2 separate regions of the Homo sapiens genome follow, and region 1 is linked to region 2. The links come from fine-mapping of genetic effects on gene expression. A gene starts in region 2. The other region holds a variant in brackets. All regions are shown on one strand. Distances are from middle to middle. Region 1 overlaps PSMD4 (proteasome 26S subunit ubiquitin receptor, non-ATPase 4). Region 2 holds the start of RFX5 (regulatory factor X5).

What was found. PIP is the estimated chance that this variant, and not a neighbour inherited with it, causes the effect.
Region 1: its variant is fine-mapped to the expression of RFX5 in whole blood (TOPMed, PIP 0.96).

Annotation. Positions count from the first base shown.
Region 1 is chr1:151,263,539-151,273,203 of GRCh38, reverse strand. It overlaps PSMD4 (proteasome 26S subunit ubiquitin receptor, non-ATPase 4), which reads right to left. Exons shown (of 10, transcript NM_002810.4): 3 at 9,176-9,290; 4 at 8,286-8,372; 5 at 7,970-8,038; 6 at 7,595-7,810; 7 at 7,092-7,200; 8 at 6,765-6,896; 9 at 6,617-6,684; 10 at 5,725-6,031. The coding sequence ends at 5,861. Among named protein-coding and RNA genes, the nearest start is that of ZNF687-AS1, 14 kb to the left of the region's middle. RefSeq lists an enhancer at 7,377-7,671 and a silencer at 7,377-7,671. The variant A/T (reference allele first, on the strand shown) is at 4,661.
Region 2 is chr1:151,343,343-151,352,746 of GRCh38, reverse strand. It overlaps RFX5 (regulatory factor X5), which reads left to right and starts at 5,495. Exons shown (of 11, transcript NM_001025603.2): 1 at 5,495-5,536; 2 at 6,141-6,258; 3 at 6,414-6,542; 4 at 6,786-6,819; 5 at 7,559-7,641; 6 at 7,900-8,019; 7 at 8,211-8,330; 8 at 8,469-8,550; 9 at 8,865-9,066; 10 at 9,305-9,404. The coding sequence starts at 6,427. RFX5-AS1 (RFX5 antisense RNA 1) reads right to left here and starts at 5,737. Exons shown (of 2, transcript NR_131972.1): 1 at 5,559-5,737; 2 at 4,856-5,115. RefSeq lists a silencer at 1,347-1,547 and enhancers at 5,081-5,430, 5,397-5,979, 5,034-6,233, 6,573-6,662, 9,328-9,404.

The DNA.
Region 1 (9,665 bases), 80 kb after region 2:
GATGGAGATCATCCTGGCTAACACAGTGAAACCCTGTCTCTACTAAAAATACAAAAAATTAGCCAGGCGTGGTGGCGGCCACCTGTAGTCCCAGCTACTCGGGAGGCTGAGGCAGGAGAATGGCATTGTGTCCGGAATTGGTGGGTTCTTGGTCTCACTGACTTCAAGAATGAAGCCGCAGACCTTCGCGGTGAGTGTTACAGTTCTTAAAGTCAGCGTGTCCAGAGTTTGTTCCTTCTGATGTTCGGATGTGTTTGGAGTTTCTTCCTTCTGGTGGGTTCGTGGTCTTGGGGGCTCAGGAGTGAGGCCACGGACCTTCGCGGTGAGTGTTACAGCTCTTAAGGCGGCGCATCTGGAGTTGTTCGTTCCTCCCGGTGGGTTCGTGGTCTCGCTGGCTTCAGGAGTGAAGCTGCAGACCTTCGTGGTGAGTGTTACACCTCATAAAGGCAGTGTGGACCCAAAGAGTGAGCAGCAGCAAGATTTATTGCAAAGAGCGAAAGAACAAAGCTTCTACAGTAGGGGACCCAAGCGGGTTGCCCGCCACCTTTAATTTTCACGACCACCTTGTGAGTTAGAGGAATTAGGTAATTGATCTTAAAGAAGTAAAGAGCTTCTGGTTATATGTGGTGAATTGAGCTTATCTCTGCTCACCCTAGAAATCACGTCAAAATAAGAGTAAAGAAGTGAAAAAGGGCAGGCATGGTGGCACGTGCCTGTAGTCCCAGCTACTGGGGAGGCTAAGGTAGGAGGATCACCTGAGCCTGGGAGGCCAAGACTGCAGTGAGCCATGATGGCCCAACTGCGCTGCAGCCTGGGCAAAAAAGTGACCCTGTCTGAAAAATAAAAAATAGCCGGGCGCGGTGGCTCATGCCTGTAATCCCAGCACTTTGGGAGGCCGAGGCGGGTGGATCATGAGGTCAGGAGATCGAGACCATCCTGGCTAACACAGTGAAACCCCGTCTCTACTAAAAATACAAAAAATTAGCCAGGCGTGGTGGCAGGCGCCTGTAGTCCCAGCTACTCAAGAGGCTGAGGCAGGAGAATAGCGTGAACCCGGGAGGCGGAGCTTGCAGTGAGCCGAGATCGTACCACTGCACTCCAGCCTGGGTGACAGAGCGAGACTCCGTCTCAAAAATAAATAAATAAACAAATAAATAAATAAATAATAAGACATGAAAAAGCACAAGGACAAAGAGAAGACTACAGCAAATGAGAGACTGATTTAGTTTGATACAGATGTGCAGATAACTGACACAGGATTTCTGCACAGGATGTGCAGAAAGCCAGATGTGCAGGATAACTGACTTAAGTTTGGGGATTTTTCCATTCTACTCATAATGTAGGGAGTGAAGAGCCAACAAAGAACAAAATAATCAGTCTTAGATCCCAAAAAGGCTCAAAAACAGAAAAGTCCTTGGGCCTCTGAAAGCAGGGGAAGGAAGATTGGAAAATTCCTTGTTGGAGATAATGACTGACTCAGGAGAAGAAGCCAACAGGAACTCAAATGCTGCTCCCTCCCTCCTTACTCCCAGGGAGGCCCACATATGACGGTCTCTGCTCACCCCACCCATGGAGTTTCCAGGCAGCTCTCTCTTAAGTGGGGACAGACAGCCAAGGATCATCTGAGAGTTGAAGGCAGCCTCCAACATAAAAGAAGCCAAAAGAGGAGGAGCCCAGAGAGTAACAGATAATGAAGGGACCGGAAGAAAATATCCTAAAACTGCAATGACTATACTTAGAAATATAAGATTGGCTGGGCGTGGTGGTTCACACCTGTAATCCCAGCACTTTGGGAGGTTGAGGCAGGTAGATCATGAGGACAGGAGTTCAAGACCAACTTGGCCAAGATGGTGAAACCCTGTCTATACTAAAAATACAAAAATTAGCTGGGCGTGGTGGCACATGCCTGTAGTCCCAGCTACTCGGGAGGCTGAGGCAGGAGAATTGCTTGAACCCCGGAGGCAGAGGTTGCAGTAAGCTGAGATCATGCCACTGCACTCCAGCCTGGGTGACAGAAAAAGACTCTGTATCAAAAAAAAAAAAAAAAAAAAAGAAAAGAAATAGAAGATATTGCACCCATGATACAAAAACAGGATGCTTTTTTTGTTTGTTTTTTGGGACAGTCTTGCTCTGTTGCCCAGGCTAGAGTACAGTAACGTGATCACTGCTCATTGCAGCCTGGACCCCTTAGCTCAAGTGATACTCCCACCTCAGCCTCATGAGTAGCTAGAACTATAGGTGCACTGCACCACAGCCAGCTAACTTTTTTTGTTTTTTTGTTTTTAATTAAGAAAATGTGGGGGAATGGGGTCTTGCCATGTTCCCCAGACTGGTCTTGAACTCCTGGGCTCAAGTTATCCTCCCGCCTTGGCCTCCCAAAGTGCTGGGATTACAAGCATGAGCTATCACACCCAGCCCTGGTTTCTTAATAATACACCCTGAAAACTAGAATACAGGCCATGGGCAAGGTGGCTCATGCCTGTAATCTCAGCACTTTGGGAGGCCGAGGTGGGCAGATCACTTAGGGTCAGGAGTTCCAGACCAGCCTGGGCAACGTGGTGAAACACCATCTCTACAAAAAATACAAAAACCACCATCTCTACAAAAAATACAAAAACCAGATGGGTGTTGTGGCATGCACCTGTAGTCCTAGACAGTTGAGATAGTGAGGCAAGAGGACTGCTTGAGCCTCAGAGGTAGCGGCGGCAGTCAGCCTGAGCCGTGTTCCTGCCACTGCATTGCAGCCTGGGTGACAAAGTGAGACCCTGTCTCAACACCAACAAGCATTCCTCTGGATGCTGAAACATTGAGAAAAAGAAAAAACAAACAAGAAGAAAACTGAAAACAATGAGGCAATGCCTTCAAAATTCTAAAGAAACATTATTTTAAATGTAGAATTCTATACTCTGCCAAGATGTTTTCAGACACACAAAAAATAAACTTGCTGTGCTCCTTTCTCAGAAAGCTACTGGATGACAAATTCTACTAAAACAGAGGATGAAACAAAGGAAAACCAAAATATGGCATCCAGGAAATAAGTGAGTCCCAGGGTGAAGGTGCAGGGAAGGGCCAGAACTAAAACTTTGCAGCAGGTCGAGGACAACCAATCCACATTGGAGCAAGCTCAGGAGGCCATCACGTGAGGTTAACAGGTTACCTACTGTATTTGACCAATGAGAGGAGGTTTCTATTTCTCATGGTAAAAGAATAAAAACAAAAACAATGGGCCGGGCGTGGTGGCTCAAGCCTGTAATCCCAGCACTTTGGGAGGTGGTGGCTCAAGCCTGTAATCCCAGCACTTTGGGAGGCCGAGGCGGGCGGATCACAAGGTCAGATCCAGACCATCCTGGCTAACACGGTGAAACCCCATCTCTACTAAAAATCCAAAAAATTAGCCGGGCGTGGTGGCGGGCGCCTGTAGTCCCAGCTACTCGGGAGGCTGAGGCAGGAGAATGGCGTGAACCCGGGAGGCGGAGCTTGCAGTGAGCCAAGATCATGCCACTGCACTCCAGCCTGGGTGACAGAGCAAGACTCCGTCTCAAAAAAAAAAAAAAAAAAAAAAATGCTAGGTGTGGTGGTTCAGGCCTATAATTCCAGCACTTTGGGAGGCTGAGGTGGGCAGATTGCTTGAGCTCACGACCAGTCTAGGTAACCTGGCGAAACCCCGTCTCTACAAAAAAAATATAAAAATTAGTCAGGCGTTGTAATCCCAGCACTTCAGGAGGCCGAGGCAGGTAGATCACGAGGTCAGGAGTTCAAGACCAGCCTGGCCAAGATGATGAAACCGTCTCTACCAAAAATAAAAAAATTAGACGGGTGTGGTGGCACATGCCTGTAATCCCAGCTACTTGGGAGGCTAAGGCAGGAGAATCGCTTGAACCCAGGAGGCGGAGGTTGCAGTGAGCAGAGATCGTGCCATTGCACTCTAGCCTGGGCAACAAGAGCGAAACTCTGCCTCGAAAACAAAAAAAAAACTAAATTATAATATTCTATAGTAAACAGTATAGATAATGGCTAAAATGGAAAAATTAAGAAATAGCCATATAAGTTCATTCTTTGGGAATAAGGAAGTAAGCACAGGAAGAGCTAGCTAAAGAAGTTAAATTGATTACTTCTGGGAGTAGACCTCAAGAGTGCAGAGGGGTAGGGCAGGACCCTACCAATTTTTATTACAAATCTAACTTTTAAAACTATATAGGCCAGGCACGGTGGCTCACACCTATAATCCCAGCACTTTGGGAGGCCGAGGTGGGAGGATCACTTGAGCCCAGGAGTTCAAGACCAGCCTGGGAAACATAGACCGCATATCTATAAAAAAAATTAAAAATTAGCCAGGCATGGTGGTACATACCTATAGTCCCAGCTACTTGCGAGGCTGAGGCATGAGAACTGCTTGAGCCTGGGGGGCAGAGGTTGCAGTGAGCCAAGACAGTGCCACTGCACTCCAGCCTGTGCGACAGACTCCATCTCAAAAAAAAAAAAAAAAAATTAGCTGGGCGTGGTAGTGTGTGCCTTAGTCCCAGCTATGCAGGAGGCTGAGGCAGGAGGATCCTTTAGGCTAGGAGGTTGAGGCTACAGTGAGCTATGATCACACCACTGCACCCCAGCCTGGGTGACAGAGCACAGACTTTGTTTAAAATAAATAAAAATATATATATAT[A/T]TTTTTTAATTTTTTATTTTTTGAGAGTCTCCCTCTGTCGCCCAGGCTGGAATGCAGTGGCATGATCTCAGCTCACTGCAACCTCCGCCTCCTGGGTTCAAGCAATTCTCCTGCCTCAGCCTCCTGAGTAGCTGGAATTACAGGCGTGTGCCACCACACCCGGCTAATTTTTTTTCTATTTTTAGTAGAGACGGGGTTTCACCATATTGGTCAGGCTGGTCTCAAACTCCTGACCTTGTGATCTGCCCACCTCGGCCTCCCAAAGTGCTGGGATTACAGGTGTGAGCCACCGCACCTGGCTGAAAAAAAAAAAAACTTTAAAAAAAATTATAAAGGGAATAGATGTTCCTTGTAAAATAATATTTAAACCGTATAATATAAAGTCTCAAGGTAAGGTTACTTGTAGAGTGGATTTTATGCATGTACACTGAGAGGAAAACGCCAGCAGGGTGTTTAGGACAGCAGAGACTCAGGAGACAGCATAACTGATGCAGGGAGGTGCTGGCAGGAGGGAGGGAGCCAGAACTTCCTGCCTCACGGCCTTGACTCTCTGTAAAGATGTCAGGCTTCTGTTGAGAGTGATCGGGGAGTAGAGGAAGGTATAGTAGTTGCTACAAGGAACTGACTTGCAGGGCTGAGCAGAGTCACTGAAGGCAGCTGACCAATGGGAAACTACTGTTTGGTGGTGATTCAACTCCTGGCGAGACAGGTCTGAGACAAGTTTGGATTTTGATCCTGGTTCTGCCTCTTCATTAGCTAAATATCCTTGGCCAAATAACCTAAACTTGCTGAACCTCAGAAGTCCACATGAAAAAACTGAAAAGGTTGAGTATCATTCCATGCTTGGGGTTCAGCTGTGTGAGTGCAGAGTAAAAGTTATTGGCAAGAAGGTGGTTTAAATAAGGTCTTCGTTCATTAGAAATGGAAACCTGGCTCCTGGGCCTGTAATCCCAGCACGTTAGGAGGCCCAGACAGGTGGAAACAGAGACATAGAGAACTCAACAAGGAAGGTTCTCCTTCAGGCCAGGGACTCCTCCCCTCTCTCACACTCAAAACCATCAATATTTGAAGCAAAAAAGGAAAAAAAGTTGCCAAGCTTTATTTAGGCTGTAATGGTTACAGATAACACACATCTAACCCTATATTCCGTGCTTCCCATGCAGTCCCCTAAGCAGACTCAGCTACCCTTTCCCTCCAGTCTCACTTCTTGTCTTCCTCCTTCTTGTCCTTCTTGCCGTCCTTGGTGGCCTGGGAGGCCAGGGAGCCCATAGCATTTCGAATGGCTTCATTGTTGGGATCCACACCTGGGAGGTTCTCTAGGACACTCTGAAGGAACTCGGGGTCCTGCATCACGTCGTAATCATCCTCCTCCTGCAAACAGGCAGTGTGAGCTCAAGGGAGGGTATGGAGCGGCAGGAAGTAAGCAGGTGTTAAGGACAGGAGCATGCCGCTGCCAGAGGCCCCCTGCCTTCTGACTGTGTGGGGATCTGGGCACCTCTGGTCGACGTAAGGAAAGGACAAGTCAGCAAAATCCTTTATACAGCATGAATGCAGTTATTACTAACCAAATAGAGGGGCCTGCTGAGAACTCTGTTAATTGAGCTCTGAGGAGAAAAACAGATGCCATCACATTGAGGTTTCCTGCTCTCAAGACACCCAGTTCTCCTTTTTCTTTTTCCCAGACCCGCTTTTTTCCCTCCTGGGAAGACATCCTAGAGAACTGCCCAGGCTGCTCCCACCAGCAAGAAAGGAAAATTACAGAACAAGAGGACATTTCTCCAACTCTGACCATTAGCATTGCTACCTTAGCAAGGTTTACATGTAAGAAATGCAAATCCATGTGTTTCCCTCTGCTCCTCAAAGGACTTAGCTATGGTAGAAATACTCCCAGCCCCAGAGGGATGAGGATCTAAATTCAAGGACTTTAAACCTGATGGGGGCAGGGTTGGGTCTCACCTTGGCTGGCTCAGATGTGTCCATAGCTGAGCTGGCATCAATGTCTGCTGATTCCGCCTGGCCAAACTCTGAGGAAGAGAGGTCAGTCTGTTCAGTTACACTTCCTCACCCCAACCTCTGCCTAGGCACCACCCAGGCTCTGGCTCACCTGCTCCCTGCAGGGACATCTGCATGGCATAAGCAATCTGCTCTTCCTCAGTCATACTGCTTAGGTCAGGAAGCCCAGTGCGGCCAAACTCTTGCTGGCTGATGGTCATCTTCAGCAGGGCATCGTCTGAGTCTGGGAAAAGGAAAAGAGGAGCAGGGTAGAATTGGTGCCATATCCACACAGGCCAGCCTCCAAGGCCATTCCTAGCCCAGCCCTCCCACATATTCCTACCCTGTCAGACCTCCACACTCTCCCTGCAGTGCCTACACCCAGCTTTCAATGTTTAGCATCCCGCAGTCCCAGGACTTCGGATTCCACCTCTTTCACCTTCAGTCCCAGTCGTAGCAATCCCGGCCTCAGCAGCAGAAGCTGCAGCTGCCCGCCGGGCCTCCTCCTCCTGCCGCTGCCGCTGCTCTTCCATAGATACACGAAGGGCCTGGTGAAGGGCAGGGCATAATCAGGGCTCCCCTGCCCTCACTCCTACAGGGAGCTGGGAAAGTCAGTTGGGGTGTGGGAAAGGAACATAAAGGGGCAGCTTCTGGTTTATCACACAGAGAAGAAGCTGGAGGGATAAGCAGTGGTACGGGATTAAAAAGTAAGGACTTGGGAGAAGCCTCGGTTTTCATCAGAAGTGAACAAGAAAGCATCTGACACTGGTGCCCCTAGAGATCAGACAGCATTATAGGGAAGAGGCGGCAAAAGGAGGTCTTGGAAAATGAGTGATTGGTAGTGTCTAGGACTATCCAGCCTGATAGAAGCTCTGTGATGTGTGTGCCAGAAGAGAACAAAGAGGGACCTTTGGACTCTACCTGGGGTCAACATTTGCTCACCAAGGCCAGCTCAGGATCAGCACTGGGATCTACTCCAAATTCAAAGTCACTGGCACCAAGACCCAGCATGGCACCACCTTCACCAGCCAAAATCGGAGAACTGATGAGAGCATCAGCCAAACTGGGCCCAGGAGGCACTGTCACCAGATGAGAACCGGTTCCATCTTTGCCATTCAACGTGTTTACAAAGGCTGTCAGCTTTTCTGTGTTCACCTCCTGGGGAGGAAAGAACACATGATGCCCTTCTTCAGGCCTTGCTCCCTGTTCTTTCCCATTTCTGCACTACTCTGCCACAGTACCCGCACTCCTCAGGGTTAAGGACCATTCTGTTTATGACCAAATTAAGTCAATGCCCTCCAATCAGTCCCTACTCACCTCTTCCCCAAAATTGATAATGTCAACATTTACTTTCTCCTTCTTGAGGCGTTTAGCCAGTTTCACCAGCTGGGAAGAAGGGGAGAAAAATCAAGAAATCTGTTCCATACTCGAGGGGGGGAAAGGACCCGCCGCATAAAAGCATACAGAAATCTATTGACCTCCCCAAGGTCCTCCAACAGAATCACTGAATTCTCCACATTCACCTTTCCCCAAAGTGATGAGCCTGATGCCTCTGCCAGGTTCTCCTGAGGGCTGGAAGACCTCAGTCCCAAACATGGGCTCCCCACATTCCCCAGCTGCCACTTGGACTCACATCCTTCTCATTGTCCTCCACTGGGCTTCCCACAAAGGCAATGATGCGCATCTTGTGATTCTTGCCTTGTCGGTGCTTCAGAGCCAGCTTGTAAAGGGAGAGGAAGTTCTCAGAGTTAACCAGAGGAATCACTCAGCTCTTTCCTCTGTCACTCGGTTCCCTTTTTCTTACAGTTTCTTTGTACCTGAAGTACACCATCTACCATCACGTTCACACAAGATTTAACACCCCCACCTCCTCCCTTTTTGCTATGACTCTCTGTGCATAAAGAAGGGAGGTTAATTCTCTTTCTCTCTTTTTTTTTTTTTGAGATGGAGTCTCGCTCTGTCGCCCAGTCTGGAGTGCAGTGGCGTGATCTCAGTTCACTGCAACCTCCACCTCCCGGGTTCCAGCGATTATCCTGCCTCAGCCTTCCTAGTACTGGCTAATTTTTATATTTTCAGTAGAGATGGGGTTTCACCACGTTGGCCAGATTGGTCTCGAACTCGTGACGTCAGGTGATCTGCCCGTGTTAGCCTCCCAAAGTGCTGGGATTACAGGTGTGAGCCACCGCGCCCGGCCTTTTTTTTTTTTTTTTTAGAGAAACAGGGTCTCCCTATGTGCCCAGGCTGGTCTTGAACTGCTAGCCTTCAGCAATCCTCCTCCCCTGGCCTCCCAAAGTGATGGGATTACAGGCATGAACTACCACGCCCAGCCTTAATTCTCAATTCTAGGGATTTTTCCCTTCACAACCCTCAACTACCCTGGGATTCATCCCCCATATCCTTTCTACTCCAAGTTAGCTTTCTCTTGCTCTGGTCCTAGCTCAGGATTCCAGGGGAGAAATGAGTATGATGGAGGCAGGACCTCAGAGCAGGGAGGAAAGGTCCAGGGAACCCAGTAGGACTCACATGGGCCACGCGGATGCCCGTGCAGAAGGTGATCTTGCCCTTGGGTTGGACAGTATGTAGCTTGGACAGGATACGGCCAGTGTCTGGGGTGAGTGTGGTCAGCACTTCACAGTCACTGGGATGTAGGAAAAGCATTTCAGTGAATTCAGGTCAGCACAAGTACCTCTAAACTGTGTCTAACTTTTATTTATTTATTTTTTAGACGGAGTCTCACTCTGTCACCCAGGCTGGAGTGCGTGGCGTGATCTCGGGTCACTGCAAGCTCCGCCTCCCGGGTTCACGCCATTCTCCTGCCTCAGACTCCCAAGTAGCTGGGACTACGGGCACCCACTACCACGCCTGGCTAATTTTTTGTATTTTTTTTAGTAGAGACGGGGTTTCACTGTGTTAGCCAGGATGGTCTCGATCTCCTGACCTCGTAATCCGCCCACCTTGGCCTTCCAAAGTGCTGGGATTACAGGCGTGAGCCACCGCACCTGGCCTGTGTCTG
Region 2 (9,404 bases):
ACTCGGAAGGCTGAGGCAGGAGTATTGCTTGAACTCGGGAGGTGGAGGTTGCAGTGAGCCGAGCTTGTGCTGCTGCACTCCAGCCTGCGTGAGAAAGCAAGACACTGTCTTAAAAAATAAAAAAAAAATTCACTCCCAATCTTAGTAGGCAATGTATAATAGTGTCCAAGAGCAAATTCTGAATGAAATGAGAGAGGAGAAAGAAGAAACCAGTCAGGCAGGCAGTTAAGGTGGGTCCTTGGTAAAACTCCTTCAAACAAAGAACAGCCTGAAAATTAAACTGCAGGCCCCAGATAAGTGACAGCCCGCATCCTGGAATGGAAATACCTACTCTAGGAACCCAGATGAACAAATACCACTCCCTTTTTGGACATATTTCACTCTCTTTGGCACACCTTAGTCTCTTAGTTTTCATCTATTTTACATATGCTTACCTTTCTGTGATTGGCCACAGCGGGAGTCTTCATTTACATAGGGTGAATCATCACTTCAGCCCCTGATTGGTTCCAGGCCAAGGTCCTGGCCCAAGCTTTCACTTCAGCCCCTGACTTGGTTCCAGGCCAAGTTGTTGAGCCAAGCCTTCACTTCTGCCTCCAACTGGTTCTTTACACTATCATACCTCTTTCTGAGTGGTGCTTTCTGCAAGATAGCCTGCAGGCCCGATCAGCACACTCCTCCCTTTCCCAGTCCATAAGCCACCCTCCTCACCCTCCCACTCAGCCTCATAGCTGGCAATCCTCTTTCAGGCCCCCTCTTTGCTGAGAGCTTTTCTGTTGCTTAATAAATCTGACTCTGGCTGGTCAGGAGTTTGAGACCAGCCTGGCCAACATGGTGAAACCCCGTCTGTACTAAAAATACAAAAAATTAGCCAGGTTCGGTGGCTCACACCTGTAATCCCAGCACTTTGAGAGGCCAAGACGGGCAGATCATGAGGTCAAGAGATTGAGACCGTCCTGGACAACATGGTGAAACACCATCTCTACTAAAAATACAAAAATTAGCTGGGCATGGTGGCAGGCGCCTGTAATCTCAGCTACCTGGGAGGCTGAGGCAGGAGAATTGTTTGTACCCAGGAGGTGGAGGTTGCAGTGAGCCAAGATTGTGCCACTGCACTCCAGCTTGGTAACAGAGTGAAACTCCATCGCCCCCCCGCCAAAAAAAAAACAAAAAGCAAAATATTGGCTGGGTGTGGTAGCAGGCACCTACAGTTCTAGCTACTTGGGAGGCTGAGGCAAGAGAATCGCTTGAACCCGGGAGGCGGAGGTTGCAGTGAGCCAAGATCATGCCACTGCACTCCAGTTCAGGTGACAGAGTGAGACTCCCCCATCTCAAAAAAAATAATAAAATAAATAAGTAAATAAATAAATAAATCTGACTGCCTTACTCACTCTCCAGTGTCTACACACCTTATTCTTCTTGGTCGTGGGACAAGAATACAGAGTCCACCAGCAGTTGAAGTGAAAATGCTGGAACACTCCCTCCCACTCTCCAAACAGCAAGAGTGAAAAAGCTGCAACAGGCCAGGCATGGTGGCTCACGCCTATAATCCCAGCACTTTTGGAAGCCAAGGTGGGTGGATCATTTGAGGTCAGGAGCTCAAGACTAGCTTGGCCAAAATGGTGAGACCCCATTTCTACTAAAAATACAAAAATTAGCCAGGTGTGGTGGCACACGCCTGTAATCCCAGCTACTCAGGAGGCTGAGGTAGGAAAATCACTTGAACCTGGGAGGCAGAGGTTGCAGTGAGCCAAGTGCAGTGGAGCCACTGCACTACAGCCTGGATGACAGAGTGAGACTCTGTCTAAAAAGGAAAAAAAAAAAAAGCTGCAACGCAAAGAGCCTAGGTGCAGATCCTGGCTCCATAGCTTACTAAATTATGATGTAATCTTGGGCAAATTATTAACCTTTCAATGCCTGTCTCCTCACCTGTAAAATGGGGATAATCATAGTATCTATCTGAGGCCGCACGCGGTAGCTCACGCCTGTAATCCCAGCACTTTGGGAGGCTGAGGCGGGCGGATCACGAGGTCAGGAGATAGAGACCATCCTGGCTAACATGGTGAAACCCCGTTTCTATTAAAAATACAAAAAAATTAGCCCGGTGTGGTGGCAGGCGCCTGTAGTCCCAGCTACTTGTGAGGCTGAGGCAGGAGAATCACTTGAACCTGGGAGGCAGAGCTTGCAGTGAGCCGAGATTGCGCCACTGCTCTCCAGCCTGGGTGACAGAGCAAGAATCCGTCTCGAAAAAAAAAAGAACGGGCCCCAACACATATTAGGCTCTGTATAAATACTTGCTGTTATATGATGCTTATCCGGACAATTTTTATTGTTACTGCCCAAGGCAAGGACCATACCTTATTCAGCTTTGTATCCCTAGCTCTTAACACAATGCCTGGCATAAATTAATAGTTTCCTCTTTCCTATCTCTAGCCTTTTCTTTCACTCAACTCTACCTTCTATAGTGCTGTCAAAATCATCTCTTTTACTAGGTACTATGTACTATGATACTTTCTCCCCCCTTACTAAAGCTTCCAGTTTTTCCCTGTTATCTGCAAATTTTTAAGCTAGATAACTTACCCAAAACTCTGTTTGCAACCAAAGTGCTCTAGGTTCTCCTTCATACCAAACAGTGGTGTTAGGGCTATCTTTCCATCAGTCTATATCCATATTTGGCTTGCTATTTATTTATTTATTTATTTAGAGATGGAGTTTCGCTCTTGTTGCCCAGGCTGGAGTGCAATGGCATGATCTCGGCTCACCCAACCTCCGCCTCCCAGGTTCAAGCAATTCTCCTGCCTCAGCCTGCCAAGTAGCTGGGATTACAGGCATGCACCACCACGACTGGCTAATTTTGTTTTGTTTTTTGTTTTGTTTTTTGTTTTTTGTTTTTAGTAGAGACGGGGTTTCTCCATGTTGGTCAGGCTGGTCTCAAACTGACCTCAGGTGATCTGCCCACCTCAGCCTCCCAAAGTGCTGGGATTATAGGCATGAGCCACCACACCAGCCGGCTTTTTTTTTGTTTTTTGTTTGTTTGTTTGTTTTGAGACAGGGTCTTACTCTGTCACCCAGGCTGCACGACAGAGTGGTGCAATCATAGCTCACTGCAGCCTCGAACTCATGGGTAATAGTGATCCTCCTGCTTCAGCCTCCCAAGTTGCTGGAACCACAGGCATGTACCACCACACCTGGCTGTGTGTGGTGTGTGTGTGTGTGTGTGTGTGTGTGTGTGTGTGTGTGTGTGTGTGTGTTTAGAGAGAGACAGAGTCTCACTTTGTTGCCCAGGCTGGTCTCAAACTCCTGGCCCCAAGCAATCCTCTTGCCTTTGCCTCCCAAAGTATTGAGATTATAGGCATGAGCCATCATGTCCAGCCCGTTATACCCATATTTATTTATGAGTATCTGCAAATATGTATACATGCAGTCTAAGGCAGTGCTCAAAACAATCAGCTTTGAGGCAGACTGCCTGCCTTTGGATCCTGATTCTAGCACTTTCTACATATATGACTAAGGACAAGTCCCTTCACCTCTCCACATTGGTTTCCTCATCTGTAAAATGGAGACAGTAACAGTACCTACTTCAGAGAGTTGCTGTGAGCATTACACGAGGTGTTTAGCATTTGGTATGGTGTCTGATACCTAATAAACACCAAATAAATTTTTGTTTGTTTTTGTTTGAGACGGAGTTTCGCTCTTGTTGCCAGGCTGTAGTGTAATGGCACAATCCTCCGCCTCCCCAGTTCAAGTGATTCTCCTGCCTCAGCCTCCCGAGTAGCTGGGATTACAGGCATGCGCCACCACGCCCGGCTAATCTTGTATTTTTAGTAGAGACGGGGTTTCTTCATGTTGGTCAAGCTGGTCTCGAACTCCCAACCTTAGGTGATCCGCCCACCTCAGCCTCCCAAAGTTTTGGGATTACAGGCGTGAGCCACCGCGCCTGGCCTAATAAACACCAAATAAATTTTAGCTGTTATTAGAAAACCTGGCCAGGTGCAGTGGCTCACACCTGTAATCCCAGCACTTTGGGAGGCCAAGGCAGGTGGATCACCTGAAGTCAGGAGTTTGAGACCAGCCTGACCAACATGGTGAAACTCCGTCTCTACTAAAAACACAAAAATTATCTGGGCGTGGTGATGCACGTCTGTAAACCCAGTTACTCGGGAGGGTGAGGCAGGAGAATCGCTTGAACCCAGGAGGCGGAGGTTGCAGTGAGCCAAGATCGTGCCATTGCACTCCAGCCTGGGCAACAGAGCGAGACTCCGTCTCAAAGAAAAAAAAAAAAGAAAGAAAGAAAGAAAAAAGAAAACCTCTTGCCAATATATCCTTATTGCCCCAACTCCACAATCTCCTGGGTTCCCCCAGCACTCATAGAAGCTGATAATAGGGAAAGGTAGGCTGTAAAGGGCAATGGTGATGAGCTCAGGCAGCACTACTGTCTTCTTTACAAAAGCACATTAATGATGAGCCTGGAGAACATATTAGATGTCAGGATGGCAAATACAGTTTTGGTTGTAACATGACCGCTGCGCAAAACAAAATACATCCATGTAAGAGGCTTTCAACCTGGAGTCCATGACCTCTCTGAAATTAGATGCAAAACTTGGTCTCTGTGTGCATTTTTCATGGTAGAGGGTCCATTGCTTTTGTCTGATTCATAACCTTAAAATGTCTTAAGTAAGAGGGTTAAGAACCCATGACCTATTCAGTACAATGTTCCCTGAGTGTAAAAAGTTCCTGTGGCATCCAGCACCCCCGTGGGAGTCCATCAAAATTCCAGGGTTCACCGACTGCAGAACTATGGGGATGCAAATGCATTTGCAACTCTTTGGAAGTAAAGTACACACGGGAAACCAAGAAATACTAAGAGGGAAAAAGCATTTTAGTTTAATGGGTACAACTGCTGAGGTTTTGAGGCCTCCATCAAGAAGGAAAAGAGAGCCCAGATTGCAGGTCTGTTGCGAGTAAGTGTGTCTGCAGGTTGTATTAGGCATGTGGTGATGGTGATGGGGGGTTATAGGAGCTTACAGTGAACTTCCATCACTCCTACCCATCATTGTCTAGTTATTTTATCATCCATTGATTCTTCTCTTCCGGCAGCTCTGAGGACCGTAGACTAAACTGAAACACAAAAGGGGAGGGCAAAAGAAAAGACAGTTCCAAAGGGAGCCGAGCGCCCGTTCTTTCATCCTGCGGTCCCTTTAAGAGAAGAACCTCTTGGGACCTGCAGTCCCAACCGACCCCAGTTTTAACCGAAACCCAACCCGGACTTCCCCCTCTTGACTCAAATAAGACCAACTTTGGATTTTCCCTCCCCTATTGACCAATCAGATTCTGTTACCAGGCAGACTTCAGCGGCCGCCGGTACGAGCCCGGCGCCTTCTGTCTCCGGGTGGCAGCAGTGACCAATGACAGAGCAGGCCGCCCGTGTATCTAGGCAGATCGCGGCTGTTACAACCATTCAGAAAAAGGAAAATAAAGCAACGCACGAGCCGGCTGGGCCAGGACCTTGGGGCTGGGCTGGAGTGAAGGTGGCTACGAGGTAGTTTCTCTTTCTCCCTTACCTTTATTGTTGCTTGTGTTGGAAGGCGACTGTTCAGAGGTAGGGAGGGGCAAGATGAGTTGGGAGGAGAGCAGAAAAAGATTGTAGCTGTATTTTCAACAGCTTCTTCACCCATGTGCACGTGCCCGGAATCTGGGACCCCATTCCCCTGCCGGGTTTCTGACGCCCAGCGCATGAGTTCCGCTACCCCGCCCCACCCCCGCTCCACTTTGCAGAAACCGGGGATTGAATGGAGGGGGAAGGGAAGGAGGTGGGGGCGCGCCTCAGGATGGGCTGTTGTGGGAGATGACGTAGGGGCCGGCGACGTGGGGAGGGGGAGCAGCGGGGGAAGTCGTGGCGAGATTAAGTAATGAGAACTTGGGCCCAGTTTTTTTTCCAAGCCTAGAAGGGCAGAATATGTTCGTATCCTTTCTGACCTCCCAGGCATATGCAATGGTGAGGAGTATTTTTGAGAATTAGAGAACTTTGTTTTGTGGCTGTTATTGTTGTTTTTGAGGGGGAGGAGGGCAGTATGGGGTCAGAGGCAGAAATGAAAATTTCTTGCTAACATGGATTCCCAATCCCCCTATCTCTTCCTTTACAGTTTTCCAGATTTAGGAGACTTCAGAAAGGTGGGGCAGATAGAATGGAGATGGCAAAGATCTCTTTGGGCATATATGGGCCTGGCGAAGTAATGGAATAATTTCTAATTTTCGGAGAAGGCAAGTGGTGAGAAAAAGACCACCGGGGAAATTCGGAGGCTTTGTTTCTGTTTCTCTGCCTTTCTGGGTAAAGAGATGAGGAGTGCCCTGGGGCCTTCTGGGGAAGGGAAGGCCAGTGTGAGTTACATCTTTATGCCTGTCCCTCTCAATTCTAGCCCTCATGCCGGGATGGCAGAAGATGAGCCTGATGCTAAGAGCCCCAAGACTGGGGGAAGGGCCCCCCCAGGTGGTGCTGAGGCTGGGGAACCTACCACCCTTCTTCAGAGGCTCCGAGGTACCATTTCGTAAGTACTCATCACATCTCCAAGTCCTGTCCAAGACCTGAGTATAGATCCCTGCAGCACTTCACTTTGGCTGTAGATGAACTGCCTCTCAGCAAGGGCATGGGAGCAGAGGGAGATTTTTGGCCATGGTAGCAATTCTTGAGCACCTGCTGGGCATTTCAGTCCTTTTCCCTCCCTAGCAGTCAGATAAAGAGACAGGGAAAATCTTGTGTGTGACCTCCAGCTTTCTCCTCTTCCCCACAGCAAGGCCGTGCAGAACAAAGTAGAGGGGATCCTGGTAAGTGTGTTGGGGAAGAGGGCAAGAGAGGGATGGAAATGCTGAGGGAGGAGGATGTGAGGATGATGGGCATCAACAAAACATTGATGTGGGAGAGGTAGGGTCCTCTGCCTTGTCAGAAGATAGTTGGCTTTGCAAACTTGCTGCCAGTTTGACTTTGTGCCTCTCACTTGATCTCTGTGAGCACTTGCATAGAAGCCCAGCAGAGATGAAGTCAGAGCTGATCCCCTCTACTTCCCTCCTCTCCATGGTAGCCTATAGGGCTCCTCAGAGCACCTAGCATCAAATAATTTCTTTCTTTTTTTTTTTTTTTTTTGAGATGGAGTCTCACTCTGTCGCCTAGGCTGGAGTGCAGTGGCGCAATCTCGGCTCACTGCAAGCTCCGCCTCCCAGGTTCACGCCATTCTCCTGCCTCAGCCTCCCAAGTAGCTGGGACTACAGGCGCCCGTCACCACACCCAGCTAATTTTTTTTTGTATTTTTAGTAGAAACGGGGTTTCACCATGTTAGCCAGGATGGTCTCGATCTCCTGACCTTGTGATCAGCCTGCCTTGGCCTTCCAAAGTGCTGGGATTGTAGGCGTGAGCCACCGTGCCCGGCCTTGTCAAATAATTTCTAAGGTCCTTTTTCAGTCTGACACCCTGTAAGTCAGCTAGACTTTGGTGTGGGGATCAGAGGGTCCTATATTGGGTCCTTCTTGGCCTTATTATTTCTCCTGCCTCTGTTCTCTCCTACCTCAGCAAGATGTACAGAAATTTTCTGACAATGACAAGCTGTATCTCTACCTTCAGCTCCCCTCAGGACCCACCACTGGAGACAAAAGGTAGGTTTGATAGTAGTTTTAGATGGCAGAGGTTCTGATTCTTAGAGAAAGGTTCACTGGGAAGGGGTGAGGTGAATAGGAATACTCGTAAATGCTGTCCTTGATGAAGAGGAAAGGTCCTCGCCCTGACTTGGTTTACCAGGGAAAGTTAGATTCTGGGTGAACTAAATTTGGTCCAGCACTACTGAAGTGGTAGTTTGGGAAGAACCAGGACAACTGTTAGGGTCTTAGTAATGCTTGTTCCTTTTGTTTCTGTAGCTCAGAGCCAAGTACACTGAGCAATGAGGAGTACATGTATGCCTATAGGTGGATCCGCAACCACCTGGAAGAGCACACTGACACCTGTCTGCCAAAGCAAAGTGTTTATGATGCCTATCGGTGGGTGGAGGGGTGGGTGGTGGGATGAGTGGATTGGTGGGCATAGGACCCCCTCACCCATGAAGAGCTTCCTGCCTTGATAAAGCCTGCCTTCTTAAAGGGTTCCTCACACTTGATCCCTAGGGACTCTTCGAGCCTACCCATGGCCTCCTTCTCTGAGTATCTTCCCACTCTGCTCCCCTCTCACTCAGGAAGTACTGTGAGAGTCTTGCCTGTTGCCGCCCACTCAGCACAGCCAACTTTGGCAAGATCATCAGAGAGATCTTCCCTGACATCAAAGCTCGAAGGCTTGGTGGCCGGGGCCAGTCCAAGTATCCTTGACTAGAGAGGTTGGGGGTGGAGGACCTGGGAGGAAGACTTAGGATGTGGAGAGCAAGGAGTGGAACAGCTTAACTTGCTCGAGGGGCTTGGAGATCGCCATGTGTTGGCTGCTCTTTAACTTGCATCAGATATTGCTACAGTGGCATAAGGAGGAAGACCTTGGTGTCTATGCCACCCCTGCCTGGACTTGACCTAAAGGGTTCTGAGAGTGTAAGTACCAAATCACCTTCCAATTCCACTCTTCTCTCCCAGGTAAAAGTCAGAGGTCTTTGGGGCATGTTTTGAGGGCTAACAGCCTCAGTCATTATGTACATAGCTTCTAGGTATGATGTTCCCTTCTGCCAACCCTGTAGCTGAGGCAGAGGATGAAGAGAACTTGTGGGCTTCTGCAATGGGATAGGTAGAGGCTACTCCCATCCCCAGTCTGGTCTCAGCTTTGGTCAATAGTCTTTGATCTCTGACAAGAGAGGAGGCAAGGGTTCTTTAATTTGGAGTGTGATTGGGCATGTCCTTCCCCACTTCAGCCAGAAATGGGCCCAGAAGTAACCCCAGCACCTCGAGATGAACTGGTGGAGGCAGCGTGTGCCCTGACCTGTGACTGGGCAGAGCGGATCCTGAAACGGTCCTTCAGTTCCATCGTTGAGGTCGCCCGCTTCCTGCTACAGCAGCATCTCATCTCTGCCCGATCTGCACATGCCCATGTGCTTAAGGCCATGGGGCTCGCTGGTGTGTTGACCCTCTCTTATGTCTCAGCAACCCTGAGCCACTTTCAGCTTCAGTGGCCCTCCCACACACTAGAATAGAGACACCTTGGATTTGCCCCCTCTTCCTGGAGACCCTTCTAAGACATGCTTTAGCACCCCATTTCCTGTCTCTACCAGTCAGTCAATCAGAATTGCCTCACTCCCCTATTCCTCAGTTTCCTCCTCACCTTCACTCTATTACCTTTTTGGTACCTCTGCAGAAGAGGACGAACATGCACCTCGGGAACGGTCATCTAAACCAAAGAATGGTTTAGAGAACCCAGAGGGTGGAGCCCACAAGAAGCCAGAGAGACTGGCCCA